Regions from separate parts of the Homo sapiens genome. Here region 2 is linked to region 1. The links come from fine-mapping of genetic effects on gene expression. Tissue or cell type: subcutaneous fat. Region 1 holds a variant in brackets; the other region holds the start of a gene. All regions are shown on one strand. Distances are from middle to middle.

Region 1 (15,812 bases):
TGTAATAATACTGGTATAGCCAAGGTGTGTGTTAATTAACTGGCTCTGTTTCCATTTCAAATGATAATTTGAGATGAAAATAGATGGATTTCAGAATTGATTATTGATGTAATAGAAACAAGGTGTAGCTGTTTGGGCACTTTTTGTTTAGGGTTTATTTTTACTGCTGTGTTGGCAAAATACTGAAATGCAGAAGATGGATGTGTCCCAGAAAAGAAGATGGTAATTATGGGGAAGCATCTGCTGTGATATAGTTATGTTTGTATGTGTTACATCTATCACTGTAATAATTGTAAGCAAAGACAGAGAGTTTTGTCTTCATTTTGTGATGGATGGCTCTTTCCTTTGCAGCCAAACAGGGAAAAAGTTAATGGCGAAGTGTCGAATGCTTATCCAGGAGAATCAAGAGCTTGGAAGGCAGCTGTCCCAGGGACGTATTGCACAACTTGAAGCAGAGTTGGCTTTACAGAAGAAATACAGTGAGGAGCTTAAAAGCAGTCAGGATGGTAAGGGGTTTGTTTCTTTTTGGAACGTTGTCTCAACTTTGCATTGGCTTTTTAAAACTGCCAGTCATGAATATTATAGGTTAGATTCTGTACATTGTTAACCTCTGCCCTATGATTGTATATTATTGTGAGTGAAGCATTTTTAGTTGAGTCCGCAAACAAAGCCATATAATTTTAGTTTGTTTATCCCCACCCTCCTAATTCTTTATTGTTCAAAATTTCTTACATTTTTGTTTTTAGTTGGGGGTAGGATTTGGTAAAAGATAAAAGGGTGTTGTATTACTTAACAAGATGGACAAATTTGTATTCATTGTTTGAAAGGGAGAATAAGCATTTCTCGTTAAGTGTAAATCTTAGAAACATGGGCAGTTTTCAGCGATCTGAAAGTAATAAAGTTGATTGTATCTGTGAAGGTTTTATTAGTGAATAAGAGATTTAATCTTTAAATTTGCTGAGATAAAACTTGTCAGCCTCCATCCTTTTTAGTGCAAGTGTAGCTGTATCTCTGTTTCTCTTCTTTGTAAGGTGCATTATTAATAAGGAAAATATCCAAATTCTTTGAAATTTTAAATTGAAAATTAGTGTCTCTGGTTAATTGCAAAGATGATCAGTAGCCAAGTAATTTCTTCTGAACTACCTACCTTTTCAAAATCTTCAGGAATTATTTCCTGTGACTTTTGTCCTTTTATATGTAACAGTCCTTGGTTGAGAACATGGGCCTCTTTGGAGTGTTATAGAGGACCACACTATCCTTAAGGATCAGACTTGCTATGGAACTAAGGCACTGGATCAGGAATAAGGGGATTGGCCATAGTGGGCCCATAGGTAAACGTGAGTCAAACTTTGGGGCTGTAATCAGGCATATGGCAAGATGGATCAAAACAATTTTAACTTGGTTGCTTAATACAGTTGCCCTCGGTATCCATGGTGGATTGGTGTCAGGACCTCCCACAGTAAGCCCCTCATATAAAATGATGTCATATTTACATATAAACCTATGTACATCTTCCCCTTTGAGCCATCTCTAGATTAACAGTACCTAATACAATATAAATGCTAGGAAAATAGTTATTTTACTGTATTGTTTGGGGGATAATGACAAGAAAAAAAATCTGTACATGTTCAGTATAGACCCAGTTTTTTCTTCCTTGAATATTTTCCTTCTACAGTTGCTTGAATTCATTGTTGCATGTGGAGGGCCAACTGTATATTATTTTAAGTATCTGACTTCCCCCAAAACAAACTCAGTCATATTTTAAGATTCCAAGCAAAATTTTTAAATGTAGTGTGATTTTAGAATTGTATTTGTTTACTTGAGCGTTTATTGACTCCCTTGCTTTGTGGCAGGCACTAAAGAAACATTTTTCAATGTTATAAACGATATTAAAGTTGGTCTGACTCTCCTTTGCACAGAACTGAATGACTTCATCATCCAGCTTGATGAAGAAGTAGAGGGTATGCAGAGTACCATTCTAGTTCTGCAGCAGCAGCTGAAGGAGACACGCCAGCAGTTGGCTCAGTACCAGCAGCAGCAGTCTCAGGCCTCTGCCCCAAGTACCAGCAGGACTACAGCTTCTGAACCTGTAGAACAGTCAGAGGCCACAAGTAAAGACTGCAGTCGTCTGACAAACGGACCAAGTAATGGTAGCTCCTCCCGCCAGAGGACGTCTGGGTCTGGATTTCACAGGGAGGGCAACACAACCGAAGATGACTTTCCTTCTTCTCCAGGGAATGGTAATAAGTCCTCCAACAGCTCAGAGGAGAGAACTGGCAGAGGAGGTAGTGGTTACGTAAATCAACTCAGTGCGGGGTATGAAAGTGTAGACTCTCCCACGGGCAGTGAAAACTCTCTCACACACCAATCAAATGACACAGACTCCAGTCATGACCCTCAAGAGGAGAAAGCAGTGAGTGGGAAAGGTAATCGAACTGTGGGTTCCCGCCACGTTCAGAATGGCTTGGACTCAAGTGTAAATGTACAGGGTTCAGTTTTGTAATATTTTTTCAGCAAATTTTTATACAGTGTCATTTAATTTGGGAGAGGATACTGTCCAGAAAATTAATGCATACTTTTGTCACAATTTGCCTTTTTGTGGGTGTACGTTTTGGTTTTTTTTTGTTGTTTTTTTTCTTTGTTTTTTTTTTCTTTTCTTTTTTTTTTTTTTTTTTTTTTTTTGCTTCAATACTTCTGCCGCTTTGGAAATTGTAACAGTTAATTACTTTGAATGTTGCTAAAAGGACATTTTGTGTAGGGTCAAGTTATTTTTATATGAGTTAATGTGAAATTGTAAATGGAAATTTTTCCTTAAAATACAACACAATGATGTCTGTATAAATCTGTCTGTTTAGAATCTGTGCTGTGTAAGGGCATTCGTACTCATGCTGTTACTGTACTTATGCACCATTCAGACTTGTTAGAGTAGATGTGGGTTTATGACTGCCAAGTTTGCCCAGTACAGTAGTTTTTTATCACTAAAAGTTGGACTCATTGATGGAGTCCTGTAGTAGTTTCAGTGTTAGATACAGTTTTTTCCACCATACATCTGTGCATTTTCTCTTTAGGTGACTGTTTAAGAAATTTGTGTGCATAGTTACTCAGTTTTTATGAACTGTTGTATCCTGTTAATGCATATTGCTCTGTGACTCCAGTATATCTTACCTGTACTGACCAAACCTAAATAAAGATTTTTATTGTAACTCCTTAATTAGCTTTTTTGTTTTGTTTTGGGTGTATGTTTAGCATTTGTCATTTTCATTGAGTCATTGAATTTCTACTCATTATCCTTCAAGTACCACAACAGTCAAACTTAAGACCAAGCATCGATTACGATTTTGCACACAATTTTTAATTTATGCCTTATTTTGCAAAACGGAGCTGGAGTTTAGGGCTACACTTAAAATTTTTTCTTGACTTATAATTGTTACAAAATATTTTAAAATACAGAAAAGTATAAAGAAAATAGTCATCTATTTCTTAGGCTTTTTTTTTTTTTTTTTTTTTAATTGAGACAGGGTCTTGCTTTGTCACTTAGGCTCAAGTGCAGTGGTGCAGTCATGGCTCACTGCAGCCTCAAAGTCCTCGACTCAAGTGATCCTCCCACTTCAGGCTTCCGAGTACCTGAGACTATAGGCATATACTACCACACCCAGCTACATTTATTTTAATTTTAGTAGAGACAAGGCCTCGCTATGTTGCACAGGCTGGCCTCAAACTCCTGGCCCCAAGGGATCCTTCTGCCTTGGCTTCCCAACGTGTTGGGATTGCAGGAGTGAGCTACAGCTCCTGGCCCTTTTTGAGTTTTAATTGAAAAGCAGCGTTGGTTTTTTGTGACCTGATTTCAAGTAGAGTATCTTTGTAGTTAGTGATGTTTGTTTTAAAACGCTGGCCAGCACTACTGATTTTTACTAACAACATATCTGGTAATATTATATGAGTAAGGGGTGTTAGAATGTAGGTAGGAGAAAATGTTTTTAAGGTGGAAGAATGTCAAAATTTGCTCCATTTTCTCAGAGGTAATTAAGTATAAAAGTATGATATTGAATGGCCTTCAAATGTGTAGCTTTCATATATGGTTGAAATGAAATTCCATTTCTGTTAAAAGCAAAGTATTGTTTTAGACATAACTTGTAATACAATCAAGGAACCTTGGGAGTGGAGTTATAATACTCGAAAACTGAGGTACAACTTATTTGAAAGTAATTGCTGCTTTTGCTTGTTTAGCTGATACAGGTATATCCGGTCTTCAGCAGTATGTTAAATACTGCACTGTCTCTTGATTAACCTTTTCTTTTTTTTCTTTTTCTCTTTTTTTTTTTTGCCGAGAGTCTCGCTCTGCCACCCAGGCTGGAGTGCAGTGGCACCATCGTGGCTCACTGCAACCTCCACCTCCCGGATTCAAGTAATTCTCCTGCCTCAGACTCCTGAGTAGCTGGGATTACAGGCGTGCGCCACCATGCCCGGCTTATTTTTGTATTTTTAGAAGAGATGAGGTTTCACTGTGTTGGCCAGGCTGGTCTCGAACTCCTGACCTTGTGATCCACCCACCTCGGCCTCCCAAAGTGCTGGGATTACAGGTGTGAGCCACCGCGCCCAACCTTGATTAACCTTTTCTACAGTCTGCTCAAGTGAGTAAAAAATCCTATACGATTTTTAATTTGCATGTGATTAAACATTTTGGTGTTTGATATATCAGATACTGTGTTTGGCTTTTGTTATGTACATCCTTCAACTTGACCAATTTAAACAAAAATGTAATTTCTCTGTCCTGTTGGTGTAATGTAATCAAGAGTTTGTGATAGGAAATTAATTTTTCAACCAGTGATACAATTTTATGACTGAATTTAATATGGACCTGTTAATGTGACATTTTCATGTTTCTGTTGAGTCTGCCTTGATGAATAACTCAGAGCACTTATTCTGTGGTACACAGAGTCAGTATTTCTCATTTCTGGAATTGGATGCTTTATTTTCTGGTATGCCTGTGATAAGAGAGGTGATAGAGTGGCTTCTGCATCTAATTGGTTTGAATCCTGGTATTACACTTAACTGATTTGGGCAAATGTATCCTCGAGGCTCGATATTTTGTTTTGTTTTTCTCCCCTGTAAGAGCACTCACTGCTGTCTTAGCTTGGGCTGCTGTGAAAAAAAAAAAAAACCACAGACTGGGTGGCTTTACACGCGCATTCCTCACTGTTTTTGGAGGCTGGGAAGTCTAAAGATCACAGTGCCCCCTGATTGGTGCCCCAGTTTGGTTCCTGGTAGTCCTCATACAGAGAGCGCAATAGATGTCAGTTTCCTTGGCTCCTCAGGTGTATTGGATACAACTGACTACTCCAGTTTTTGAGACACTTTTGCAAAACAATGTAAAGCCATTCCTTCTGACAACTTACTTTCTCAGATGTTCCCTCTTTCATGAGTAGTTATGCCCTGTACTCAAATCATTGCCTGCTGCTCTACGTCACTGTCTTGGGAGTTCACCTATCCCTGTGGTTATAGTGAACACTTTCATAATCCCAGGTAATGTCATTAACTGATCTGGACCCATCATGGGGTGGCTGTGCTGAGGGAGTGTTGAGCTAGCCCCTAGTGGTAAGGAGTACACTGCTGACCTTCATCCTATGGCAATTCCACTTTGGTGATTCACTGTTCCCCTCATGGAGACCAAGGAGGAATTTGCTGCATGGTAGGTTGGTGAATCCAGCCTGTAGCAAAGACCTGGCTTGGACTCCTGCAACTCTTTATGAAACTTAACCAAGAATGATTGCATCTTCCAGCGGGGGAAGATGCTGAGAAGGCCCCTTCAGGATAAACTGGCTCCATAGCACTGCTGTAATGATGGCTCCTCATGAGTAAGCACTTGGAGATTTTTGTGGCTTCCTGCCCACTCACCCTGCTCACCAGTCCAGGTAGTTTATGATTTGAGATCTAGATGTAATTTTATTTTATTTCTTTTTTTTTTTTTGAGATGGAGTTTCGCTCTTGTTGCCCAGGCTGGAGTACAATGGTGCAATCTCGGCCCACCACAACCTCCGCCTCCCAGGTTCAAGCAATTCTCCTGCCTCAGCCTCCCTAGTAGCTGGGATTTACAGGCATGTGGCACCACGCCCAGCTAATTTTGTATTTTAGTAGAGACAGAGTTTCTGCATGTTGGTCAGGCAGGTCTTGAACTCCCGACCTCAGGTGATCTGCCCGCCTCGGCCTCCCAAAGTGCTGGGATTACAGGCATGAGCCACCGCGGCCGGCCAAGACATAATTTTAAAAATTATCTTCCAGCTGGCCGGGCGCGGTGGCTCACGCCTGTAATCCCAGCACTTTGGGAGGCCGAGGTGGGCGGATCACAAGGTCAGGAGTTCGAGATCAGCCTGACTAACATGGTGAAACCCCGTCTTTACTAAAAATATAAAAATTAGCTGGGCATGATGGCACGGGCCTGTAATCCCAGCTACTCAGGACTCTGAGGCAGAAGAATCGCTTGAACCCGGGAGGTGGAGGTTGTGGTGAGCCGAGATAGCGCCACTGCACTCCAGCCTGGGTGACAGAGCGAGCTCCGTCTCAAAAAAAAAAAAAAAATTCCTCTTCTTTCCTTCATTCATTATTCTTAGTCTCTGTCTGTCTCATATGAGTAGATAATCATATGAGTAGCTATAATGAGGACTCCTCAGGGGACAGATTCTGTTTGGCCACTCAGCAGAAGCATGCAATTACCTTCTCAAGATTGGCTCCTAAACTTACTCTAGATAGAGCCTTCAGGCAGGAAACTCTATATCCCTTGGCTCCAGAAGAATATATTCATACTCATTCAAATGTGCTAGGCACTGGCCATAAAGAATATTGGTGTTCATTCATAACTGCCTATAATGTGCTAGGAGCTGTGCATAAAGCAGTGTAACAGGATCATCTTGGAAAGCTTATGTAGTCAGTAGAGGAGACAGATAAACTAGGAATTACATGGTAAGTTGAAAGAGGAAGTTAGGGGTAAGATGCTGCACCAAATGCAGGAGATTGGAAGGTTTTTCTGGAAGAAGTGATGTTTAGGGGGAGTTTCAGAGGTAAATTTCTGGTTTGGTTAACAGAAGATAGTTTCACTGCTCACTGAGATTACAGAAGAAACAGGCTGGAAGAGTTTGGTTTCAATATGTCAAATTTGATGTGCTTATAGGAAATTTTATTTATTTGAGACAGTTTCTCTCTGTCGCTCAGGCTGGAGTGCAGTGGTGTGATCTCGGCTCACTGAAACCTCTGCCTCCTAGGTTCAAGCGATTTTCCCATGTCAGCCTCCCCAGTAGCTGGGATTACAGGCGCACGGCACCACGCCCGGCTAATTTTTCTATTTTATGGTAGAAACGGGATATCACCATGTTGGCCAGGCTGGTGTCAAACTGCTGACCTCAAATGATCCGCCCTCCTCGGCCTCCCAAAGTGCTGGGATTACAGGTGTGAGCCAAGGTGCCCGACCTGATGTGCTTGTAAGAATTTAAATGAAGAGGGTCAGTCAGCTTAGGAGACGAGGTTAGATGTAAGGATTTCAGACTTGTCAGTATACAGGTGGTGATTGATGCCGTAGGAATGACTGGTATTACCCAGGGAGCTGGTGCAAAGTAGGAGCCTTGGGGAACATGTTAAGGGGATGTGAGAGTAAGCCCACAAAGACTCAGAAGTGGCCAGGGAGTAAGGGGAAAATGGGATAGAATAGAGCAAAAGCCACGGGAGGCATTCCTTGAATTCCTTGGACTCAGATATGTTAGGGGACAGGAAACACATTGAAGACAACTGAAGAGACTTCAGTGTGCTGCTGAGTTCTTAGCAGAGTAGACAGCTGATTTCACCACTATTCCAGACCCTAAAGATTTCTCCTGAAATTGCACTGTTATGCAATTTTTTTCCTTCTCTATTGCCCCACCTCTGGGGCCTACACTCTTTACCTTCTCTGATTTATCTGACCCATCCGCATATCTCTGCAAAGTCTTAATGTAGGTTTCCAGGATTTAATGATTCTTTCAATCAACTTTAAAGTTCTTCAGGAAGATTCTCCAGGTCCGTCAACAGTTTTCCCCTTCATGACTTTGTGACAAAGCTTTCTTGTTCCACTATCCAGGTGTTCCCAACAAGTTGCTGTAACGGTGGCCCCTCATAAGCTTGCCTGGAAACCCTAGAAAGCTCAGAAAAATTATGAACTTTGCCCAGTAAGAGGCTGGGAAGTCAGAAAGGGTTTTAAACAAAACTGACCCCACTTGTTACATGCTCCTTTCACTGTCCAAACGTCAACCAAAGGAACTTTTGTGACGCTAAGACGCTCCCGGCGTCCTCACCCGTTCACAGCCAGAGTTGATCTTAGAAGGCAGGGGGCTCGCACCGAGACGCTCCTAGCAAGCCCCTCACGCGAGCGAATGACTGGCGCCAGGAGAAACGCATAGGACCTCCCGAAGCCGCCGAGAGCAAAAGGACCCATCAGAGCTGTGCTGAGACCCGCCGCGGGCCGGGCTCGCACTCGAGATTCTCGCCCGTGGGATTCCAGTCCTGAGCTGAACGAGAGATAAGTCTTTGTCACCCCCCAGTCTTTACTGTTTCGAGAAACCCTAAGATTTTTTAAAAAAAAGCCCAAGACGTCAAGTCGGGGAACTCCAACATTGGGGTGTCCAGAAACACTGG[G/C]GTTTCAGGCGCTCTGTAAATGCGTCCGAGGTCCGCGGTTCTGCCCGCAAGCCCAGACCCCGGCCTCACTTCCGCCCCGCGCCCCGCGCCCCGGCCTCACTTCCGCCCCGCGCCCCGCGCCCCGCGCCCCGCGCGCCTCCGCCCGCCCCTGCTCCGGCCTTGCGCCTGCGCACAGTGGGATGCGCGGGGAGGTGGTGCGCGGGGAGGTGGAGGGCGAGGGGCGGGGCTACCTCAGGTCCCGCCCGCGGCAGGCCTGTGGGCTGCGAGGAGGAGCTTTGCCTAGCTTGCAGGCAGCGCAGGGCAGACGGCGGCAGGAGAAGCAAGATGAATGCAGGCTCAGATCCTGTGGTCATCGTCTCGGCGGCGCGGACCATCATAGGTGAGTGGCCGGCGGGAGCCGCGCAGAGTCCGAGGCGCCTGCTGCTTCGGCAGGAGCGCCGAGGGCCGGACTTGTGTAGGAGAGGGGCGTATGTGGAGGAAGCCGGTCAGGCCAAGCCGCGAGGAGCCGCGGGATCCCTGGAACCCTGCGGCTCCCGCGTTCCCTGACCTGGTGCTACAGCCCCACCCTCTCCTCTCCCGATGTGCGCACTCCGTCCCTCGTGCTTGGATTGGCTCCCGGGGTAGAGCCATCGCGTGGCCTGCCTCTCCCATTGGTTGGCGTAGGGAGGTGTTCTCCTCCGGGGCCCCTGATTGGCCGGCTCCGGGAGGCGCCATCGGTAATGCCTGCGGCAGGGGCGGAACTGCTAGGTGGTCTGAGCCCGGCTTTGGGCTGGGGTCGGGCTGTCACACAATGGCTAGAAGTCGTGACTTCGTCTCCTTCGTGCCGCATGGTTTTCAACGCCCTTGACCCGCCGGTTCCTTTTGTTTGGGAAGCATGGGGTCGCATCCAGTCCTTCGGATTTGGGGAAATAGAAGGGCTACAGCGGCGTCCCTAGGCCGTTCTGGAGGTCGCCTGTCCAGCCCTCGGCTGCTGCGAGTTGTGGCACCCACCTTGACCTTTGCTCAGACCAGCAGGTGTAGGAACGTGTGGGAGGAGAGGGCACTGCCTCCTCGCGTGGCCTTGCCAAACAGGGTCATGAGGCTCCCCTGCTCGTAGGTGGTTCCCGTATTACCCGCAGGCTTGTGATGTCCACGCTCTCCGCCTTTCTATTGTAGGTTCCTTCAATGGTGCCTTAGCTGCTGTTCCTGTCCAGGACCTGGGCTCCACTGTCATCAAAGAAGTCTTGAAGAGGGCCACTGTGGCTCCGGAAGATGTGTCTGAGGTCATCTTTGGACATGTCTTGGCAGCAGGTAAGTCTCAGTGATTCCAGGAGAAGTCAGGCTTATTAGAAACAGCCCATAAACACACACACACACACACACTCTCACACACTCACACACTCTCTCACTCACTCAAGTTCTTGCCTCCTTGCTTTTGCTCAGAGTTCCCTCTGTTATGATTCCTCCTGTTGGCCCCCTTCTTCCAGCCCTGTCAGTAGCTTCTATCCAGCTTGAGACTCAGCTTCTTGGCCAGGCAGGGTGGCTCCCGCCTGTAATCCCAGCACTTTGGGAGGCGGAGGAGGAAGGATCACTTGAGTCCAGAAGTTTGAGACTAGCCTGGGCAACAAAGCAAGACCCCGTCTCTACAAAAAATAAAATAGCCAGGTATGATGGCCTGTGCCTCCCAGCTACTGGAGAGGCTGAGGTGGGAGGATCACTTGAGCCCAGGAGTTTGAGACTGCAGTGATTGTGTCACTGCACTCCGTCATGGGTGACAGAGTGAGACCCCTTCTCTAAACAAACAAAAAGACTTAGCTTCATTAATATGCTTTTTGTGAATGAACTTAGACCACTGACCTACACCACCTACACTGCCTTTTCTTTTCCTTTTTTTTTTTTTTTTTTTTTTTTTTTTGAGACGGAGTCTCTCTCTGTGGCCCAGGCTGGAGTGCAGTGGCGTGATCTCGGCTCACTGCAAGCTCCGTCTCCCGGTTTCACGCCATTCTCCTGCCTCAGCCTCCCGAGTAGCTGGGACTACAGGCGGCCCACTGCCTTTTCATTCTTACGAAGCAGGGCCGGCCGGGCCCGGTGGCTCACGCCTGTAATCCCAGCACTCTGGGAGGCCGAGGTGGGCGGATCATGAGGTCAGGAGATCAAGACCATCCTGGCTGACACGGTGAAACCCCGTTTCTACTAAAAATACAAAAAATTAGCCGGGTGTGGTGGCGGGCGCCTGTATTCCCAGCTACTTGGGAGGCTGAGACAGGAGAATGGCGTGAACCCGGGAGGCGGAGCTTGCAGTGAGCTGAGATTGTGCCACTGCACTCCATTCAGCCTGGGCAACAGAGTGAGACTCCTTTTAAAAAGAAGAAGAAGAAGCAGCAGCAGGGCCAGCCTGACGCATAGGAAAGTATGCCTGCTCCTCCTTACTACCTCAAAGTGTCACTCATTCAACAAAAATGTATTCAGTTCCTCCTATGTGCCCCATACTGTGCTTAGTGCTGGGAGTATGGTTCCAACAATACAGGTAAGTTCCCTGCCCTCTTAGGGCTCAGTTCTGAGCTTGGAAAATAGGTGCCACATCATGCCCCTTGCAAATGGGGCATATCACTCCCCAGAGGAATATAGCTGAGTCCTGAGAGTGCCCCCATCTTCTGATTCTTTGGGTTTGAACACTCGTAATTAATTAATTAATTATTATTATTATTATTTAAAGAGACAGGGTCTCACTCTGTTGTCCAGGCTGGAATGCAGTGGTGTAATCAATCGTAGCCCACTATAACCTCAAACTCCTGGGCTCCACGGTATCCTCCCACCTCAGCCTCTGGAGTAGCTGGGATTACAGGAGCAGGCCACCACACCTGGCTAATTTTTTAAATTTTTTTGTAGAAGTGGAGTCTGTCTGTTGCCTGGGCGTGAGTGCAATGGCTGTTCACAGGCACAATCATGGTGCACCATGCCCTTGAACTTCTGAGCTAGCTGGGACTACCGGTGCATGTCTACTAAGTTTAAGGCTTTTAAAGCACTGTGCTAAATGCTTTCCTTTCATTACCTCATTTAATCTTCCTCACAAGTCTGTTATATCCTATTATCTTCATTTTACAAATGAATAAATGAGAGTTTAAGAGGTTAAATGACTTACCAGGGTCACAGTTTGAAGTGGAGCTAGCACTTGAACTTAGATCTGTCCTATTCCTTGAGCCAGATACCTTCTACAATCATGTAACAAATGTTTATTGAGCACCTACTTTGTGCCAGGCACTATTTTAGCAGCTGGAGATAAGCAATGTTCATATCAGATAGAAATTCTCATTCTCATGAAGCTCGTAGTATGCTAAATGCTAGCATTATTAATTGTGTTAGCACCTCATTTCTTTCTTTTTCTTTTTTTGAGATGGAGTCCCACTCTGTTGCCCAGGCTGGAGTGCAGTGACGCAATCTTGGCTCACTGCAACCTCTGCCTCCCGGGTTCCAGTGATTCTTCTGCCTCAGCCTCCCAAGTGACTGGGATTACAGGTGCCTGCCACTGTGCCCAGCTAATTTTTGTATTTTTAGTAGAGATGGGGTTTCAACATGTTGGCCAGGCTGGTCTCGAACTTCTGACCTCAAGTTATCCACCCGCCTCGGCCTCCCAAAGTGCTGGGATTACAGGCATGAGCCACCATGCCCAGCCCTGTACCTCATTTCTTCTTTTTCTTTTTTTTGAGATGGAGTCTCACTCTGTCGCCCAGGCTGGTGGAGTGCAGCCGTACAATCTCGGCTCACTGCAACCTCTGTCTCAGGTTCAAGCAATTCTCCTGCCTCAACCTCCTGAGTAGCTGGGATTACAGGCGTGCACCACCATGCCCAGCTAATTTTTGTATTTTTAGTAGAGAGGGGGGGTTTCACCATATTGTCCAGGCTGGTCTCAAACTCCTGACCTCAAGTAATGCGCCCCCCTCCCCCGGCCTCCCAAAGTGCTGGGATTACAGGTGTGAGCCACTGCTCACAGCCTGAGGCACCGCACTGGGCCTGTCTTTTTAATATGTATATGATCCTGCATATGTTTTCAGTCTCAAGTAACCTTACCCGTTTTTAGTTTCCAGCCTAATCCCAGATTGATAACATTGTGATGAATATAATCTCTAAGTTTTTATCAGCGACTTATTTGCTAGTTCTTCCCCACAAACTCTCCAAGGAAGGGTGGTAGGTTTGAGTATATCTGAAACTGGGAATAGAGTAACCACTTTATAAACATTTACCATTGACTCTGATAACAGACAATGGCGATTGAGAATATTTGAAACTTTTAACTCCATTCTCTTCTGTGCTACTTTAAGTAAATTATGTATTTCTTCCCAACTAAAGGAAGTCCCATAGTTGAATTATGAAAAGATATTTGTGTTTCAGTACTCAGAATGAGAAAAAAAGGTATTTGTGAATTCTGAGTTTGTATATATTTTGTTATATAACCATTTAAGCATAGTGTAATGAATACTAAGCAAGAACAGAACTGCTTATTATCAAAGGTTTTCCTTTTTAAGTAACCCTTTTTCTTCTCAAGTGTCTTAAGCCATGATCTTGGGAGCAAATGGCCCTAGTTAGAAACACTGATAATGCCTAGGTTATATCCTGTGTTTATTAGACATAGGTTTGATAATGCTTATTTAAGCACCCCCCCGCACTTTTTTTTTTTTGAGACGGAGTTTCGCCCTTGTTGCCCAGGCTGGAGTGTAATGGTGTGATCTCAGCTCACCGCAACCTCCGCTTCCCAGGTTCAAGCAATTCTCCTGCCTCAGCCTCCCTAGTAACTAGGATTACACTCATGCGCCACCACGCCTAGCTAATTTTGTATTTTTAGTACAGACAGAGTTTCTCCATGTTGGTCAGGCTGGTCTCAAACTCCCGACCTCAGGTGATCTGCCCTCCTTGGCCTCCCAAAGTGCTGGGATTACAGGCATGAGCCACCGCGCCCAACTATTTAAGCCATATCAAAAGATGAGGATGACACTTCTTTCTTAATGTATTAATGACTTATTTATGGAGGAGAAAGCTTATATCTATGAAATACCTACAGAGCAGCACAAGGCAGTATATATTCAAGGGCTAGACTGTGACAGGTGGAGAGTGTATACAGGCCTTTTTGCCTCCAGTGGGCACTTACTTGACCTGTAGGCTTTCAGAAGTGGCAGGTAACCCAACTGGCAATTTTCCACACACTTTCACTGTGACATTTTGTCTTTCTCCTTGATTGCTAAGAGTCCTCTGTGTTCCTCTTTCTAGGCTGTGGGCAGAATCCTGTTAGACAAGCCAGTGTGGGTGCAGGAATTCCCTACTCTGTTCCAGCATGGAGCTGCCAGATGATCTGTGGGTCAGGCCTAAAAGCTGTGTGCCTTGCAGTCCAGTCAATAGGGATAGGAGACTCCAGCATTGTGGTTGCAGGAGGCATGGAAAATATGAGCAAGGTAAGGCCTCTCTGATGAGGTGGCTTTCACTGACCTCACACTGAGAAACTCATGTCTATGCCAGAACAGAGTAAACAGATGCATAGCAGAGCTGGAACCAAACAGTGAACAAATAAACAGAAATGACAACCTTGATCCCTACTTGAATGTGAAGTATTCTTCAGTTTGGGTGGGAAATCCGGGTTGATAAGAAGTTTATCAACCAGTGTGATTGGAACCGAATATACTTTTTCTAAACTATTAATGAAGCATGTAATATTTTCTGAATTAAATTCATATTAGTTGCTTGATGTCCTTGGTTTTAAATTTCTTTCCCATTGTGAGTAAAAGGCAAAAAACAGATGTTGCCACTTACCTTCCTGCACATGACAAGGAGATCCTGGGGACCAGACTTTTTGACCTTTTCAGGGTATAGAACATGTAAAAGAGGACCACCAAGTGGTGCCCTTCTCCAGTAGGTTTGCCAGGCATGATTTGTTTCACCAAGTTCCATACCTCAAACTGGCATAGTGGTTGAAAGAAAAACTATACCCCCTGCTTCCTACTGATGCAGCTCAGGGGCTGAGGTGCAGATTCCCTAGATAGAAGCTGATTCAGCCCAGCCATTGCTGAGGTTCAGGAGGAGGCAGGCTAAAGGTAACAAAAATAATCGGAGTGATTTTGATGGGATGATACTGACATCTGTGTAGTACTTTACCAGGTGCTTTTGTACATGTGTTCACAACAGCCCCATATAGGGTAGATGATACCATTCCCAGTTTACAGGTAAGGAAACTGAGGACCAGAGCCAGCATTCAAATACAACTCTTCCGACTCTAAGTCCAATCAATGACTCTTTCCATTCTAATATACCTGCTGTTGAGTTGGTGAGAGTTAAGACTGGCCGCTACTCAGAAATCCCTCCCCATCATTTAGTTAGCCTGATTATTCTCACTGTAGACATTATGTCATCCATTGAAATAGGTAACACATTGTTAGCTTTACTTAAGCCCTTAGAGGATTTCTTCATTTAACAGATAATTAATTGCCTCGATGGAAAGAATAAATGGAATTCTTAAGGAAACAGGACACAGAATGGGTAGGTTTGAGGGAGAATTGAAAATGGGTAGGTAGGAGAGTAATCGTTCCCAACAATAGGAAAGATGAAGTCTGCTAATTCCAGGGGTCTTTAGACCTTGGCCTGGCTGAGGACCTAGAACTGGGGAGAAGGGCTGCAAAGGGGCCTAGATGAAGACTTAGGAAATACTAGATAGTTTTGAGTTGTATTCTGGGGAGAAGACTAATTGCAACTAAGCCTAAATCCATTTTTATTTCTGACTTCTAGGCTCCTCACTTGGCTTACTTGAGAACAGGAGTAAAGATAGGTGAGATGCCACTGACTGACAGTATACTCTGTGATGGTCTTACAGATGCATTTCACAACTGTCATATGGGTATTACAGGTAAGGCAGACATGGCTGAAACTGTATTAGCTTTAAAAAGGTTAAAAAGACCATATACTAATCTGCTTCTTAGGTGCTTTCGTCCTTATGGCCAGAGACTGTCTTAAGGATTTTTATATCTCTTCTTTGATTAACTGAAGTGAAGTAAGTATTCTCTTCTTTGTGAACTCTTGATTATCAGAGAATGTTAGAAGTGGGAAGTACCTCAGAGTTCTTCTGGATCAACCCCTCATTTTACCAAATGAAGAAACAGGGCCCACAAATAGTGCTTCTGTGGCAGAGGTAGTGACAG
Region 2 (15,812 bases), 32 kb before region 1:
AACTATTTATTGCTTATAGTCTTACGACTTTTTTTTTAGAATAATTATCTTTGCTAGTACTATCAGATTTGCATGACAACCCTTTCTCTTGTATTCTCTGTAAACTGGAGGTTGTCCCACTATTACTGATACTAAATTTGATGGTTTGGTTCAAATGGTGACCACCAGATGGCTCCACTATACAGGTGTATTTTCTTTACCTTTTTTTTTTTTTTTTTTTTTTTTTTTGAGACAGTGTCTTGTTGTGTCGCCCAGGCTGTAGTGCAATGGCGCGATCTCGGCTCAGTGCAACCTCTGCTCCTGGGTTCAAGTGATTCTCCTGCCTCAGCCTCCCAAGGAGCTGGGACTACAGGCACATGCCACTGCACCCGACTATTTTTTTTTTGTATTTTTATTTTTATTTAATTTTTATTTATTTATATTTTTTAATTTTTTTTTTGAGACGGAGTCTCGCTCTGTCACCCAGGCTGGAGTGCAATGGCACAATCTCAGCTCGCTGCAAGCTCTGCCTCCTGGGTTCATGCCATTCTCCTGCCTCAGCCTCCCGAGTAGCTGGGACCACTGGTGACCACCACCACGCCTGGCTAATTTTTTGTATTTTTAGTAGAGATGGGGTTTCACCATGTTAGCCAGGATGGTCTCAATCTCCTGACCTCGTGATCTGCCCGCCTCGGCCTCCCAAAGTGCTGGGATTACAGGCATGAGCCACCGTGCCCAGCCGTTTTATTTATTTATTTTTGAGACGGAGTTTTGCTCTCATTGCCCAGGCTGGAGTGCAATGGTGCGATCTTGGCTCACCACAACCTCCATCTCCTGGGTTCAAGCAATTCTCCTGCCTCAGCCTCCTGAGTAGCTGGGATTACAGGCATGTGCCACCATGCCCGGCTAATTTTGTATTTTTAGTAGAGACGGGGTTTCTCCACGTTGGTCAGGCTGGTCTCGAACTCCCAACCTCAGGTGATCTGCCTGCCTTGGCCTCCCAAAGTGCTGGGATTACAGGATTACAGGCATGAGCCACTGCGGCTGACCTTTTTTTTTTTTTTTTTTTTTTTTGTATTTTTAGTAGAGATGGGGTTTCACTATGTTGCCAGGTTGGTCTTGAACTCCTGACCTCATGATCTGCTAGCCTCGGCCTCCCAAAGTGCTGGGATTACAGGCGTAAGCCACCACACCCAGCCTGTAATTTCTTTTACAATTAGGTAAGTAGCCTGTAGAGTGATACTTTGATGGCATTTCCCAGCAATCTTTCATCTAAAGGTTTTGAAGTCCATTGATAGTCCTTGTCTGAGTCAATTATTTCATTAAGGTTTGCATCATGGTTATTGTCTAATTCTATATTTTATTTTATACTTATTAGCTGGCATCCTATAGTAAAGAAGAGTTTTTCCTCATCAACTGGGTATAAACCACATTCTTTATTAAAAAAAAAAAGAAAAAAAAAGCAGGGTAGGTTGGGAGCAGTGGCCCATGCCTGTACTCCCAGCGCTTTGGGAGGTTGAGGTGGGAGCATCACTTGAGCCCAGGAGTTCAAGACCAGCCTGGGCAACATAGCAAGACCCCATCTCTAAAAAAACAAAAAAGCAAGCAAAAACACTTAGCCAGGTATGGTGGCAGGCACCTGTAGTCCCAGCTTCTGACGAGGCACGAGGATCACTTGAGCCCAGGAGGTCAAGACTGCAGTGAGCCATGTTTGTGCCACTGCACTCCAGCCTGGATGACAGAGCAAGACTCTGTCTTAAAAACAAAAACAAATGAAACAAAAAACAAACAGGGTAAATGCTATCTCCCTTTAATAACTAATTTTCAGAGTATCAAATTGGTGTAATAGACACTACCAATGATGGAAAAATAGTTTCCCTCTTCTCATTCTCTCTTCTCTGTACTAGAGAGTAGACTTTTATTTATTCAGTATTTGCAATCAATTGTATTCATTTTCTTTTTGACGCTAAAATTGCCCTAAATTTGCCCCCTGGGAGATCCTTCAAGCTGGCTCCCATGTCTCTAAAATTTATTTTTGAGAGACTGAAAATACAAATGGTAAATGGCCAGAATATACATAAAAACAGAATTCTGACCCATTACCTACAACAACTAGCCCAGTAAACCAACCACTTATTTACCATAAGTGTACTCTCAGCCTGAAAGCCAAACCTGCTATCAACCAGACTTGTAGGAAGTCAGACTGCTATCTCTGGTAGCAATCCAGGAAGCTAAATAATAACTTCTATGACAATCAGCTCAAAATGGCCAGGACTTGATTAAAACTTGACAGCTTCCCTACTTTTTGTCCTCACTTCTAGCTTATGCCCATCCAGAGAAAGCCAAATATGCTCCTTTAACCAAGACCATAGGATGCCAACTTGTAGTTAGCTTCCAGCTTCCCCATGCCAACAGCTTCCAATCAGGCATACCTGTGAAACCTTTCCTTTTGTCCACTGTAAAGCTTTCCCACTCCTCTGCATGCCTTTGAACCTCTGCTAAAACATAAGGGATGGTGGCTGACTCCCTTGCTACAGCAAGTTCTCAATCGACTTTGCTTTTCTCATTTGGTTTGCAATAAAATGCATTCTTTACAGTGACACAATTTGATGAATTTTGACAAACGTATACATTCCCACTAACCATGACACAGAACATTTCCATCACCCCCAAAAGTTCTCCCATTTTCCTTTCCAGTCAATTCCTTCTCTCTTCCCCTCCTAACCAACCACTGATCTGCTATCTACCACTATGGATTAGTGTTGTTTGTTCTCCTAACTACAGTTGGCATAGCCTCATTGGTCTAAGCACTTCCTCTGCATTCAGGCACAACGAAATACCTGGCTCATCTTGTACCTTTCCCGTCCCAGAGCTGGAATCAGCCAGTTCTCCAAAGGAGCTCTGGATCTTTTTAGTGGGAAATGGAATTTAGAAACCAAGATCTCAGTGTCAGATGTGCTCACTGTTACTGTAGGGTGCCCATGCCTATACATCCTGGTTCAGCCAGGACTGTTCCAGTTTTAATCTGAAAGTCCAGCATCCAGAGAAAACCCCTCTGTTTGTGGCAAACTAGAACAACTGGTCACCCTAGTGCTTCTAGGCCCTTTCAGTCCACAGAACTAGGACTTTTTTTTGCAGTTGAAACTTTTTTTTCTTTTTGATAGGGTCTGTTGCCCAAGCTGTAGTGCACTGGTGAGATCACAGCTCATTGTAACTTTAAACTCCTGGGCTCATTTGGGCCTCTCGCCTCAGCCTCCCAAGTAGCTAGGACTATAGGCACAGGCCACCACCCCTGGCTATTTTATTATTTTGTATTTTGTAGAGACAAGATCTCACTGTGTTGCCCAGGCTGGTCTTGAACTCCTAAGCCACTTTGGCTTCCCAAAGCACTGGGATTACAGGTGTGTGCCACTGCACCCAGCCCTCCAGTTTAAACTCAATACTACAGACTTTTTTTTTCTGAACTTCTTAAAATTCTTTATATTAGTTTCCACCCCCACCCCCGGATGAATGAACGTCTTAAAAATTGTTTTAAATTTTTTAAAAAATGGAGACAGGGTCTTGCTATGTTGCCCAGGCTGGTCTCAAACTCCTGGACTCTAGTGATCCTCCCGCTTTGGCCTATCAAAGTGCTGGGATTACAGGCATCAGCCACCCGGCCCTTTTCTGAACTTCTTTGATCTTGTGTTTGTATCTCATTCTCTCACACACTGCACATCTTTGTATATAGTAACATTAAAATACTTATGTTATCCTACCATATACAGTACAGAGTTTTAAAACCACAGTAACAATGTTACCATTAATCATAAATCAGTGAAGCTGAAAGCTCCTGTGCACTTTTTTCATCCTTAGAATACACAGTTGACCCTTGAACAACACTGGTTTGGACTGCCAGGGTCCACCTATATGTGGATTTTTTTCACCCCAACACAGATGAAAAATACAGTGGGGCGAGGGACGGTGGCTCACACCTATAATCCCAGCATTTTGGGAGGCTAGGTGGGAGGATCACTTGAGCCCAGGAGTTCAAGACCAGCCTAGGCAACACAGCTCTCTACTGAAAATAGAAAAAAATTAGCTAGATGTGCTGGCACATGCCTGTGGTCCCAGCTACTCGGGAGGCTGAGATGGGAGGATTGCTTGAGCCCAGGAAGTCAAGGCTGTAGTGAGCCATGATCGTACCACTGCACTCCAGCCTGGACGACAGAGTCAGACCCTGTTCTCAAAAAAGAAAAAAAAAAAGAAAAGCAAGAGAAGGGAAGGAAGGGAGGGGGGAAGAGAGGGAGGGAGGGAAGAAGGGAGGGAAGAAGAGAGGGAGAGAAAGAAAAAAAGAAAAGAAAAAGAAAGGAAAGGGAAGGAAGGAAGAAAACAAAACAGAAGTACAGTGGGATGCAAAACACACCTACACAAAGAACCAACTTTCCCTATGCTCAGCTCCGGGACTTTAGTATGCAGATTTCTGTATATGCTCGCAGAAGGTCCTAAATCCAATCTCCTGCATATAAGGAAAGACTACACTATCACAACACAGATACACTACTAGAGTACTGTGTTCAAAAGCTCAGAGGGGCCAGTGGTGGTGGTTCATTCCTGTAATCCCAGCACTTTGGGAGGCCAACCTGCAGGCGGATCACCTGAGGTCAGGAGTTCCAGACCAGCCTGGCCAACATGGTGAAATCCCATCTCTATTAAAAATACAAAAATCAGCAGGGGATGGTGGCGCATGCCTGTAATCCCAGCTATTCAGGAGGCTGAGCTGAGAGAATCGCTTGAACCCAGGAGACAGAGGTTGCAGTGAGCTGAGATTGCACCACTGCACTCCAGCCTGGGCAACACAGTGAGACTGTCTCAAAAAAAAAAAAAAAAACCCAAAGAATAATTATTTTTTCTGTGTATCTTAGTTATATTAGTTAACAGTTAAGTTCATTTGTTTCAATTTGCTTTCAACCTTAGGATTTACTTTGTTTCCTTTTTTATTTACTTTTTTGGCTATGTAAAACTAAAAGTTCAAAGACAGAGAAATCTTGTCTCCACCCCCCACTCTTTATAGGCAACTAAAAATGTTAAGTTTCCAGGATATCCTTCCAATTCCTCCCCGAAAATAAGCATATACACATAAATATTCATATTAAATATAAATATATATTTTTATGTATTTAAGTAAATACATAAAAGCATATATGCTTATTTTTGCTTTTGAATACAGTGAATACTTACTACACTTAAATATTTAAGTGAATACTTAATACAACCTGAGACTCATTCCAAAGCAACACACGATTATTTCCTGAATCTTTTTAATGGTTGCATTGTGTTCTACTGTATGGATGCACCATTCCCAATCAGTTCCCTATTAACGGATATTTGGGTTATCCCTAACTTTTGCTATGACAAATAGCACTGCAATAACCTTGTATACCTATTGTTTCCATGTGTGGAGCTGCACCTTCAGAATAAGGTTAGGGTTAGAAGTATAACTGCAAGGTATAAGAATAAACACAAGTAATTTTGTACTCCGTGGAACTTGAACCATTTTTCCACTCCCACCAGGAAAGGTAATTTCAACGTGTATTTCCATTGTAAGTGAGGTGGAGCGACTTTCTATGTTTAAAGACCATTACGGTATTTTTTCTGAGAATCATCTGTTCATGTCCTTCCCCATTTTCTCCTTTGGCTTTTGCACTTTTTGTTTTCAATTTTTGAGAGCTCTTGTGATACGAGTTGCAAAGATTTTCTCCAGACCGATCTGATTCACTGGAAATATACTACGACCATCTGGAATGTACTTTAATCTTATCCTAATAAATCACCTTACTACAAGACACTCCTTTGGGGATGAACAGGTTTGATAAAGCCGGCTAAGGACAGACCAATCAAAAGAATTACGTGCTCTTCTAGTAAGTGTTTAGAGACTGTTTCACGTTCTCCAGGTAACACCGCCATTACTCGGCGGTCCAGATGGCAGTCTTACTTCAGGGAGTCTACTCCACTTGCAGGACCTCTTTGATTGAGTTCACTAAACCTCACAGGGCCGCCTTCCCCGTGTTCCAGTTAGCAAGGGGCCCTCAACGCCGCGGACACAGCGCAACCTCCGACGCCAGAGAACAATAGCTCCTCGATGCGTCTCCAGAGATGTCAAGGAGGAACGAACCCAGCGGCCAGGAGACTGCGCCTCACGACTGATGAGAGGGAAGGCATCGGTTTCTAAGTTCTCAAAACTTACAGGTGAGCTTCTGCTAAGAGTAAACGCCCGCGGCTCGCCGCCCACGGCCTCTCTCTTGAGGTGGCACCTGGTCCTCCGACACGCGGAAGCATCACGGATGAGCGTCACGAACACAGAGCGGCCAATCACGCGCCGCCTTCGCCCAGATCCCTCCGCACGAGGCAGCCCCGCAGCCGCAGGTGGCCCCGGCGAGTACTTCCACCTTCCCTTCCCGTGATGCCCTGGGGCTGACCTCCGACCTCGCTGGCCCGCCCCTCCCCTCGGCCGCTTCCCTTACTGAGCTTGCTGAGCTCCGGGGCCCGCGGAGCTCGCGCCAGGCTCCTGGGAAAGGACGGGGAGTGTTACCGGGGAGCAGCTGCTCCATTGTGCCTCGAGGCCCCGATCGGGCTAGGCCGACGGCCTCCCTCCCTTCACCTTTCCTCTCCTGGCGGGGTTCGGCGGCGGGCGAGTGACTGCGGCCACGCCTGAAAGGCGACTCTCCTGTGAGTGGGCCAGAAGGCGAACATGGCGGAGCGGGGAGGCTGGCGGGAGGCGGGAGGCGGGAGGCGGGAGGCAGTGGCGCTGGCCTGCGGCGCGTTCGGACCGGCTGTGGGGCGGGGCAGGGCGGAGCGGAGCCGTGCGGCGGGGCGGGGCCGGGCGGCGGGGCCTGGTTTCCTCCCTCAGCGCCATTTTGTGGCAGCGAGACCCACAAATAAAGGGGAGCGCAGGGGTTGCGGCGGGACTAGGAGCGCGGCGGGGCCGGCGGCAGAGCTGTCCGGCTGCGCGGTGGCCCGGGGGGCCCGGGCGGCAGGGCAAGCAGCGCGGCCTCGGCCTATGCGACCGGTGGCGCCGGCGCGGCTTCTGCCTGGAGAGGTAGGCGCGGGCCGGCTGGCGGGAGCGGACGCGGGGGACCTCCGGGGCCTGAGGGCTGATGCGCAGCCGCCCCCGGCGGGTAAGGGGCGGGCAGGGCCCGAAAGGCCACACGGGCCTGGTGCGGCACCGGTCTCTCGTGAGCCGCTCTACCTTCCCGCCTGCGGGGAACACTTCCGCCGCTTCGAGGCCATTTTATCTCTGTCCTCCGTCCCCAAGGCCCGGGTTGAGAGGGGTGCTCTGGCGGCCGGAGAGACCGGCCACTCACGGAGGCCGGAGGATGCCCTCCCCGGGCTGAGCGGCGGCGCTCGTTTTTTCCTCGCCTCGGGGTCGCCCCCTTCACCTCCCTTGGGCCTCTCCTGAGGACCTGGCGGCACTAACGAGTTCAGCAAGGAAAAAAAGAAACATTCGTTCCCTACATTTCATGTCACGCAGTAGGATGTTACTACGTTCTCTTGTAGACTTCCATTTTTAAATGAGTATAAGCATTCTGAGGAAAGAAACTGAATTATTGCAGATTTTTGTGAAATCCAAGTCTTACCTTGGATCCCTGTGAGACAGTTACTAGATTTTTTTTTCACCGTTTTTCATAAGTCTGTGTACACGTAATGGAAAAGCCCGAGTTCTTGTTTTGATAAGAAAGTCACTTGGTTGTTTGATCCCAAAGGATTAGCTTAACATTATCAAGGACTAGCATAACTGTGATTATGTAAAAAAAACAAAACAAAACAAAAAAACTATTATTTAGTCTGGTAGGGAAATACTTCTATGAGTATGTTACAATTGGAAGTTGTATTTGTGCCTATTTTATCTAGTTTTAGTTAATTCCATTGCTTCGGAAGATAAGTGGACGTCATAGATCCATCGCAAGTTCTCGTTTTTTGGATTTTAAAATTTTGACCATTAAGTTTTCTACGATAGATAAACATGTTGTGGACATTTAAAACCGTAATTTAAAACTATGAGCGAAAAATCTTTTCAAGATGGATACATTTTAATTCATTCAAGTAGCATCTGATTAGCCAAGTCGGGGAAAGATTGCAGTCCGCAAAGCTGGCTTGTGATAAGGTTGAGGTTACATTTTAAGGGTTTGGGTAGGTGTGTTTCTTACAGTGCTTTTATATGTTAAGGTATCTTAAGCAGACACATGGTTTAAAAGTTCAGTATTTTTAGTACTTTTTCATTGGCAGAATTTGGACAAGCTACCAGAATTGCTAACTCCTAAAGGATAAAAGTAATAATAATAGTGTGTCCCAGGCACTGCTTATTTTTACATGGCTCTTTTATGTCTAGCTTTTCCAATTCAACGTTGAGTCATGTTTGCTGAAAATATTTTTGTGTATTGTTTGTCAGAAATAAGCTGGTAGAGATGAAACACAATGTGTAAAAAGCCCTGTGATGTGGAGATGAGCATTGTCACAATTTGTACAGTACATTAAAGCGTTCAAGGTCTCTTATGGTCTTGTATGTAGTATTGAATCCCCTTGAATATATTGTTTAGCAGTTTTGATCATTATGTATTTGCTTCTTGCTCCTCAAAATTGTACGTTAGTTAGTAGGTCCTTCAGCAAAAGAAGACTGAAGATAGTATTTTGGTTTTATTCTTGTTTTTAATTTTTTTAGTTGTCTCCAACTTTTCTGCCTCTAAATATTTTGCTTCTTGTAGTTACTAAGCTTAACACAGAAAAACTTTTCAGTATCTCCACAATAGTAAACTTCATTGTGTATTGTGTATAACAAGATGTTCCATCTGACTAAAATATATTGCTGTAAATATTTTCTGCCTTTGAAGATGTAGTTAATAGAATTTAATCTTTTCTAAGTGCACATTGAAGTTGCCTTTTATGTTCATATTATGTTCATATTTTATTTGAAAAATCTATAGCATTTTTATTGTGCTGAAAGCATTAATATTTGCAGCACTTTGTGAGACAGGCAAAATTATCTTTTTGCTGACTTGGAAACTGCAAGAGTTAAAAGACTTGCTTGGAATCACACATGGCAGATAGAGGATAAGGAAAAGATGGCCTTTCAGTTCCTCATCAGTACCTTGCTACTACAGTGTCTGCAGATTGGTGTCTTACATTCAGCTATGATTTGTTCGCCAAGGTACCGTGTCTTCTTACTGAAGTTGTTTTGGCTGGCGCTTGCCTCCGTTCAGAGGGAACTGAGTTACCTAACTTTATGATGCTAAGAGCCAGGAAGGTACTGGGATCTGGGATGCTAGGCACCTAACCAGTCTAGACTGAACTCCATACTAAGCTGTTTTTCTGTGTTAAGGCATCAAGAGTAGATGGTGGTCCTGATTTTCTGAGATATATTATCTCTGAATTATCTACATAAATAACTGAAACTTTTATGTAATTTTAAAACTAGTCAATCATGTTACCACCCTTTTGAGGGGCACCAAATTTGAGACCCTTACCCCCAATTTATTAATTAATAGCTGTTTTAATCACCTAATAGCTGATCACCTAATGACTAACAGTCATTTTCATCCTGGAAAATGGGAACTAACTTTGACTTTGAAAAGTGCTGTTATTAAATGTGTGATTCATAAGAACTGAACATATTTTCTTTATTATTTTCCTTCAGGATTCAACTTTAATTGACTCCAAATGATGTTATGGTCATTCTGTTTTTCTGATACGAGAATAGATTGTTCTGAGAACCTAGAATATTCATTGCCTTTATGAATCTAGAATTGACTTTAAATTTAGGTTATTGTGTTTGTCATTTGCGCTAAAAAAAAAATTGCCCTGGGGAATACCAAACTTCTCGGTACATTCGTGTGGTGTGAAAGTCAAAATTGCCAATTAGGTTCTATTTTGACCAAATAGTTGAATGTTGTAGACAGTTGTAAATTTTGAACCTGTTCTAATTTGCCTTTTGCCAGATGGCGCATTTAACTTTGTGGCATATCATCGACTTTCAAGGAAAGATTTACTTTTCATCAGATTAAAGTTGAGGAAGGATTTTCTTTCTAAATACTGAGGCTCTGAATTTCCCAAGTTGGATACCCCAGACAGCTAGAGTGATCTTAAAAGTGACTCTGAGAGTTGACTTAGGAAGTGTAGACATTTATCCAAAATCTGTATTTACTCCTGACTTACATTACAAATACAGAGTTTTATTTTTAAAGAAAATTTCAATAAAAAGCACCATTTAATTAAAATCTACTCACCATCAAACTTTTTAAAAAGAACATAAGCCAATGTCAGGAGTTGGAGACCAGCCTGGCCAACATAGTGAAACGCTGTCTCTACTAGAAAAAAAAAAGAAATACAAAAATTAGCTGGGCATGGTGGTGCGTGCCTGTAGTTCCAGCTCCTTGGGAGGCTGAGGCAGTAGAATCGCTTGAACCCGGGAGGCGGAGGTTGCAGTGAGCCCAGATCATGCCCGTGCACTCCAGCCTGGGCAACAGAGAGAGACTACGTCTCAAAAAAAAGAAAAAAAGAAAAGAAATTTCAATAATTGCAGGCTGGGCATGGTGGCTCACAACTGTAGTCCCAGCACTTTTGGAGGCCCAAGCAGGAGGATTCCTGAGCCCAGGAGTTCAAGACCAGCCTGGGCAACATAGCAAGACCTCATCTCTACTACCAAGAAAAAAAAAACAAATTAGCTGGGCGTGGTGGTTCATGCCTGTGATCCCAGCTACAAAGGAGGCTGAGGCAAGAGGATCAGTTGAGCCCAAGAGATGGAGGCTGCAGTGAGCTGTGATCGAGTCACTGCACTCCAGCCTGGGCGACAGAGTGAGACTCTGTCTCAAAAAAAGAGAGGAAAAAAAGAAAATTTAAGTAACTTCTGTTTAGAATCCTAAATATTGGAGATGCCAAAGAATTCTGCAGTAAGTGTTAGAAACAGTCGGGAGGACAGTATGATTATTATCCTCAACCTGTGGATTATCTCTTCAGGTTTTTCAAGAAACACTGAGTCTGTGTTTTTGATGGGGAGAAGAAACTATTAATTAAATGCCCATTTTGTGCCAGTTACCATGCTAAAGATTAATGTCTGTCTTCAGAAATAGCACAGTATTTGGGCCCTGGTTGTGGTAATTCTTTTTGAGATGGGGAAACTGAGGTGCAGAGATTTTGCTACTTTTGTATTTGCAAAGTTGACAACCTGTTTCAGAATACCAAGGTTATCAGAACTTTCTTCATGTGTTTCTCAGTCCTTTTAATGCCCTTTAAAAACAGATTATCATCTCATTTTTTGCTAAGCTTACTGTTAATTTTATTTTAGTGGAATAAGAATATGGATACCTGTCTTTAAGAAGAGAGTAAGCAAGTAAACCTAGGGAAAGTATCAGGTTGTAGAACCACATACCGATGATCCTTGCCAAAATCCTGGCATAGGAATTTGAACCCTGGTGTATGAAAAGTCTGCCCTTTGCATACTCAGGTTTCGCATCCCGTGAATGCTGTATTTTTGATCCGAGTACTGTATTTTTTAATCTGAGTTTGATTGAAAAAAATCCAAATATAAATGGACCCATGCAGCTAAAACCTGGGTTGGTCAAGGACCAACTATAATAACTTTTATAAGCTGGAATTTATATTGAACAGCATCCATGATACTTTAGTATTACAACTAAAGTTGTACATACTGAGTAGGTAGGATGCCTTAGTAACTAGATAAAAGGTATACCACCTAGCCATAGTGATAAATATAGCTGTTTTCAAACTGTCATTCACAGATCTCTACCACAGTACCTGTTACGTGAAGTTCCTGGTTGGTTCTCAAAATTTTATGTTCGTATATACATAGATACAGATACTGATATACCGGTTAAATATGTACAGCTCAAATAGCTAAAATTGTCTTTAAGATTTTTTAAATTAAAAATATTATTGGCCGGGCGCAGTAGCTTACACCTGTAATCCCAACACTTTGGGAGGCCAAAGCAGGTGGATTACCTGAGGTGAGGAGTTCGAGACCAGCCTGGTCAACATGGTGAAACTAAAAATACAAAAATTAGCCGGGCGTGGTGGCAGGCACCTGTAATCTCAGCTACTCTGGAGGCTGAGGCAGGAGAATCGCTTGAATCCAGGCGGTGGAGGTTGCAGTGAGCCGAGATCGCGCCATTGCACTCCAGCCTGGGCAACAGAGACCGGGCGCAGGGGGAGGGGGAGTGTCTCTGTCTGCTTCTTTCTCTCTCTCTCTCTCTCTCTCTGTATATATATATAGTGTGTGTGTGTGTGTGTGTGTGTGTGTGTGTAAAATTGATATTTAGCTCCAGACAAATGGGAAATTACAAGGAAATGCCAGATTTGATATCTGGGTTCTAAGACTTTGCAGCCTAATGCATGTGTCATGCTAAAATAGAAGTAGTTAGACATGTGGAGTTAAATATGGTGATGGTTTCTGAGATGATTAAAATGACTGCCACCAGGTTAAGGTAGTTACAAAGCAGCTTTCTGTAATGGCAGCAGAGATAATAAACTGGGCAACAAGGGAGGAACCAATTTAAAGAAAAAAAGAATAATATACATTTTATATCATAGTAATATGGTTTATGTCTTCATAGGACAGAGTGACTTGCTCAGTGAAACAGACTGTATACAATTAGCTCAGAAACAAATACTGAGGTTTTTATCTGTTTGCTGTATCCCTTGAGAAAGATTAAAGAGGGAAGGCAGGGTGCAGTGGCTCACGCCTGTAATGCCAGCACTTTGGGAGGCCAAGGCAGTTGGATTGCTTGCGCCCAGGAGTTCGAGACCAGCCTGGGCAGCATGGCGAAACCCTGTCTCTACCAAAAAAAATTACAAAAAATTAACTGGGTGTGGTGGCACATGCCTGTAGTCCCAGGTACTCGGGAGGCTGAGGTGGGAGGATCACTTGAGCCTGGGAGGTCAAGATTGCAGTGAGCCATCATCGCACCACTGCACTGTGGTCTAGGTGACAGAGCGAGACTGTCTCAAAAAAAAAAAAAAGCCCAGCACGCTGGCTCATGCCTGTAGTCCCAGCACTTGGGAGGCTGAGGTGGGCAGATCACCTGAGGTCGGGATTTCCAGACCACCCTGACCAACATGGAGAAACCCCGTCTCTACTAAAAATACAAGGAAGTTAGCCGGGCGTGGTGGCGCATGCCTGTAATCCCAGCTACTTGGGAGGCTGAGGCAGGAGAATTGCTTGAACCCAGGAGGCGGAGGTTGCGGTGAGCCGAGATCGCGCCGTTGCACTCCACCCCGGGCAACAAGAGCGAAACTCCATCTCCAAAAAAAAAGATTAAACAGAGAAAGAAGCAAGCCAGTAATCTAAGATCAATTTATGATTTTTCCTCTAAATTCTGCTTTCTTCAACACAATTTACTTAATCTGAAAACCAGGGTTTAATAACAGTATGATTAGAATGTTTCATTTATAAAGTGGAGTTGAGATTGTACGTAGTATAAAACATGCTGTTGGAAGATTATCTCCTTTTGAGGAATCTCAAAATCAAGTGGGAGAAATCAAGTAGTCTTGGTGTGTGTGTGTTTTGTTTGTTTGTTTTAATGAGAGACAGGGTCTTACCACATTGCCCGGGCTCGGTTCAAACTCCTAGGCTCAAGCAGCTCTCCTGCCTCAGCCTCCCAAAGTGCTGGGATTACAAGTGTGAGCCACCACACCAGCCTCAAGTAGCTTTCGAGATGATGCCACAGCACTCCAGCCTGGCAACAGAGTGAGACTCCATCTCAAAAAAAAAAAAAAAAATTCAGTTTAACATACCAAGCTTTTGGTCAAATTTCTAGTAGTTTAGAATTTATAATAAGTATGGGTAATTAAAATAAACCATAAACACTTTAAAGTAAGGGAAGATTCATGAGTATACTATTAGAAATAATAACTAGGGCTGGGCGTGATCCTTCCACAGGTAGTTCTAGCTACTTGGGAGGCTGAGATGAGAGTATGACTTGAGCCCAAGAGTTCAAGACTAGCCTGGGCACTATGGTGGGTCCCCATCTCTTAAGAAAGAAAGAATAGGAAAAACTAAATTAGTATAAGAACTAATTACTTAATTTGTATAAGTTATGAATATGCCAAATGCAATTTAGATGCTTTTTCAAAAGAGCACTGGTACTCAGAACCCTGATTCAATTTTTTAATCCTCATAGAATTTTTATATAAAGATTTTATGTTTGTCAGGTTAGCTCTTCATGTCGTATACTTTTTTTTCCAACCTTGTATTTTAATGTGGTGTTTATGTTTATTACACATTTTTTCTTTGTCTTTTTTTTGTGTGTGGATTTGTAGTTTAATGAATAATACCTGCTATTAGCATTCGTTCTAAAAAACAGCATAATAAAGTGTTCCCTACTTGAATTCATTAACCTATCTTTGAAACAGGGTTAAGTGAATTTTGTATAATAAAGAAGCTAATTTTGAGATACAAAATATTTGGCATAAAATTAAATACTGTAGGAATATTTTTATTAAGGTGTGACATACATGTGTATGTGAGTTTTTGTTGTTTGTTTGTTTGAGATGGAGTCTCTGTTGCCCAGGCTGGAATGCAGTGGCGCGCCATCTCGGCTCACTGCAACCTCCGCCTCCCAGGTTCAGGCGATTCCTGCCTCAGTCTCCCTAGTAGCTGGGATTACAGGCGTGTGCCACTACGCCGGGCTAATTTTTTTAATTTTTTGGTAGAGACCGAGTTTCACCATGTTGGCCAGACTTGTCTTGAACTTCTGACCTCAAGTGATCCACCCACCAGCCTCCCAAAATGCTGAGATTACAGTCGTGAGCCATCACGCCCAACCAGTGTAACATATATTTTAAAATATGTAATAGGATGGGCGTGGTGGTTCATTCCTGTAATCCCAGCACTTTGGGAGGCCAAGGCGGACGGGTTGCAATGTCAGGAGTTCGAGACCAGCCTGACCAACACGGTGAAACCCCGTCTCTACTAAAAATACAAAAATGAGCCAGGTGTGGTGGCACGCACCTGTAGTCCCAGCTATTTAGGGGGCTGAGGCAGGAGAATTGCTTGAACCCTGGAGGCGGAGGTTGCAGTGACCTGAGATCGCGCCACTGCACTCCATCCTGGGCGACAGAGTGAGACTGTGTCTCAAAAAAAATAAAAATAAAATATATAATATATCTAAAAAACTATTGGGCAGTAGTAAATTATGGCTGTGGTAGGTACTACCTTACTTTAACAACATAATGCTATAAAAGGAAAGACTTAAACTGGTATTACCCTTTTATAGTCCCTTAGCAACATGCGTAGGATACTACTTGAGGTCATTATATTTCTCTTCACCCTTTATGGCGACATCAAATGATTTGAATGGCTGATCAGCTTTTTTACGAGGGAATTTGTAAAAACTACCCAATAACTCTAATGATGGAAGATGTTAACAAAGGAAGATCTGGGTACAGAGTATATAGGAACTCTGTAATATCTTTGCCACTTTTTTGTAAATCTAAAACTATTTTAAAATTGTTTATTTAAATTCTAATTATTCAACAGTAATTTAGTTCACTAATAAATTGATTTGAAAGAGTCAGTATTTTTTATTCCTACTTTCACTGGAAGAAAATAAATTGAACTTGTTTTCCGCAACTTTTTTTTTTAGGATTCAAGATGACCAACGAAGAACCTCTTCCCAAGAAGGTATGGGTTTTGGTTTTGGGTTTTTTTGTTTTGTTTTGGGTTTTTTGGGGGCTTTTTTAAGCACTTTAAAAAAAAATAGACTTGAAGGGATTATCGTTGTTTGCTTATTTTTCATTTCTTTGCCTTTATAACAATAATAGCATTGGAGTTGTACAGTGTGCCA

Evidence for each region.
Region 2: it holds the start of WTAP, and the variant in region 1 is fine-mapped to the expression of WTAP in subcutaneous fat (TwinsUK, PIP 0.95).

What each region holds. Positions count from the first base shown.
Region 1 is chr6:159,753,109-159,768,920 of GRCh38, forward strand. It overlaps ACAT2 (acetyl-CoA acetyltransferase 2), which reads left to right and starts at 8,937. Exons shown (of 9, transcript NM_005891.3): 1 at 8,937-9,034; 2 at 9,811-9,945; 3 at 13,897-14,078; 4 at 15,403-15,520. The coding sequence starts at 8,980. SOD2-OT1 (SOD2 overlapping transcript 1) reads right to left here and starts at 9,224. Exons shown (of 2, transcript NR_037166.1): 1 at 8,886-9,224; 2 at 7,150-8,528. WTAP (WT1 associated protein) reads left to right here. Exons shown (of 8, transcript NM_001270531.2): 7 at 352-506; 8 at 1,920-3,211. The coding sequence ends at 2,503. It also overlaps a transcript of SOD2 not described here. RefSeq lists enhancers at 8,190-8,249, 10,318-10,818 and silencers at 8,680-8,739, 8,760-8,909. The variant G/C (reference allele first, on the strand shown) is at 8,656.
Region 2 is chr6:159,720,647-159,736,458 of GRCh38, forward strand. WTAP (WT1 associated protein) reads left to right here and starts at 6,860. Exons shown (of 8, transcript NM_001270531.2): 1 at 6,860-7,057; 2 at 15,612-15,649. The coding sequence starts at 15,620. It also overlaps a transcript of SOD2 not described here. RefSeq lists enhancers at 6,071-6,668, 6,149-6,238, 6,589-6,718, 6,669-7,266 and silencers at 6,729-7,278, 13,042-13,302.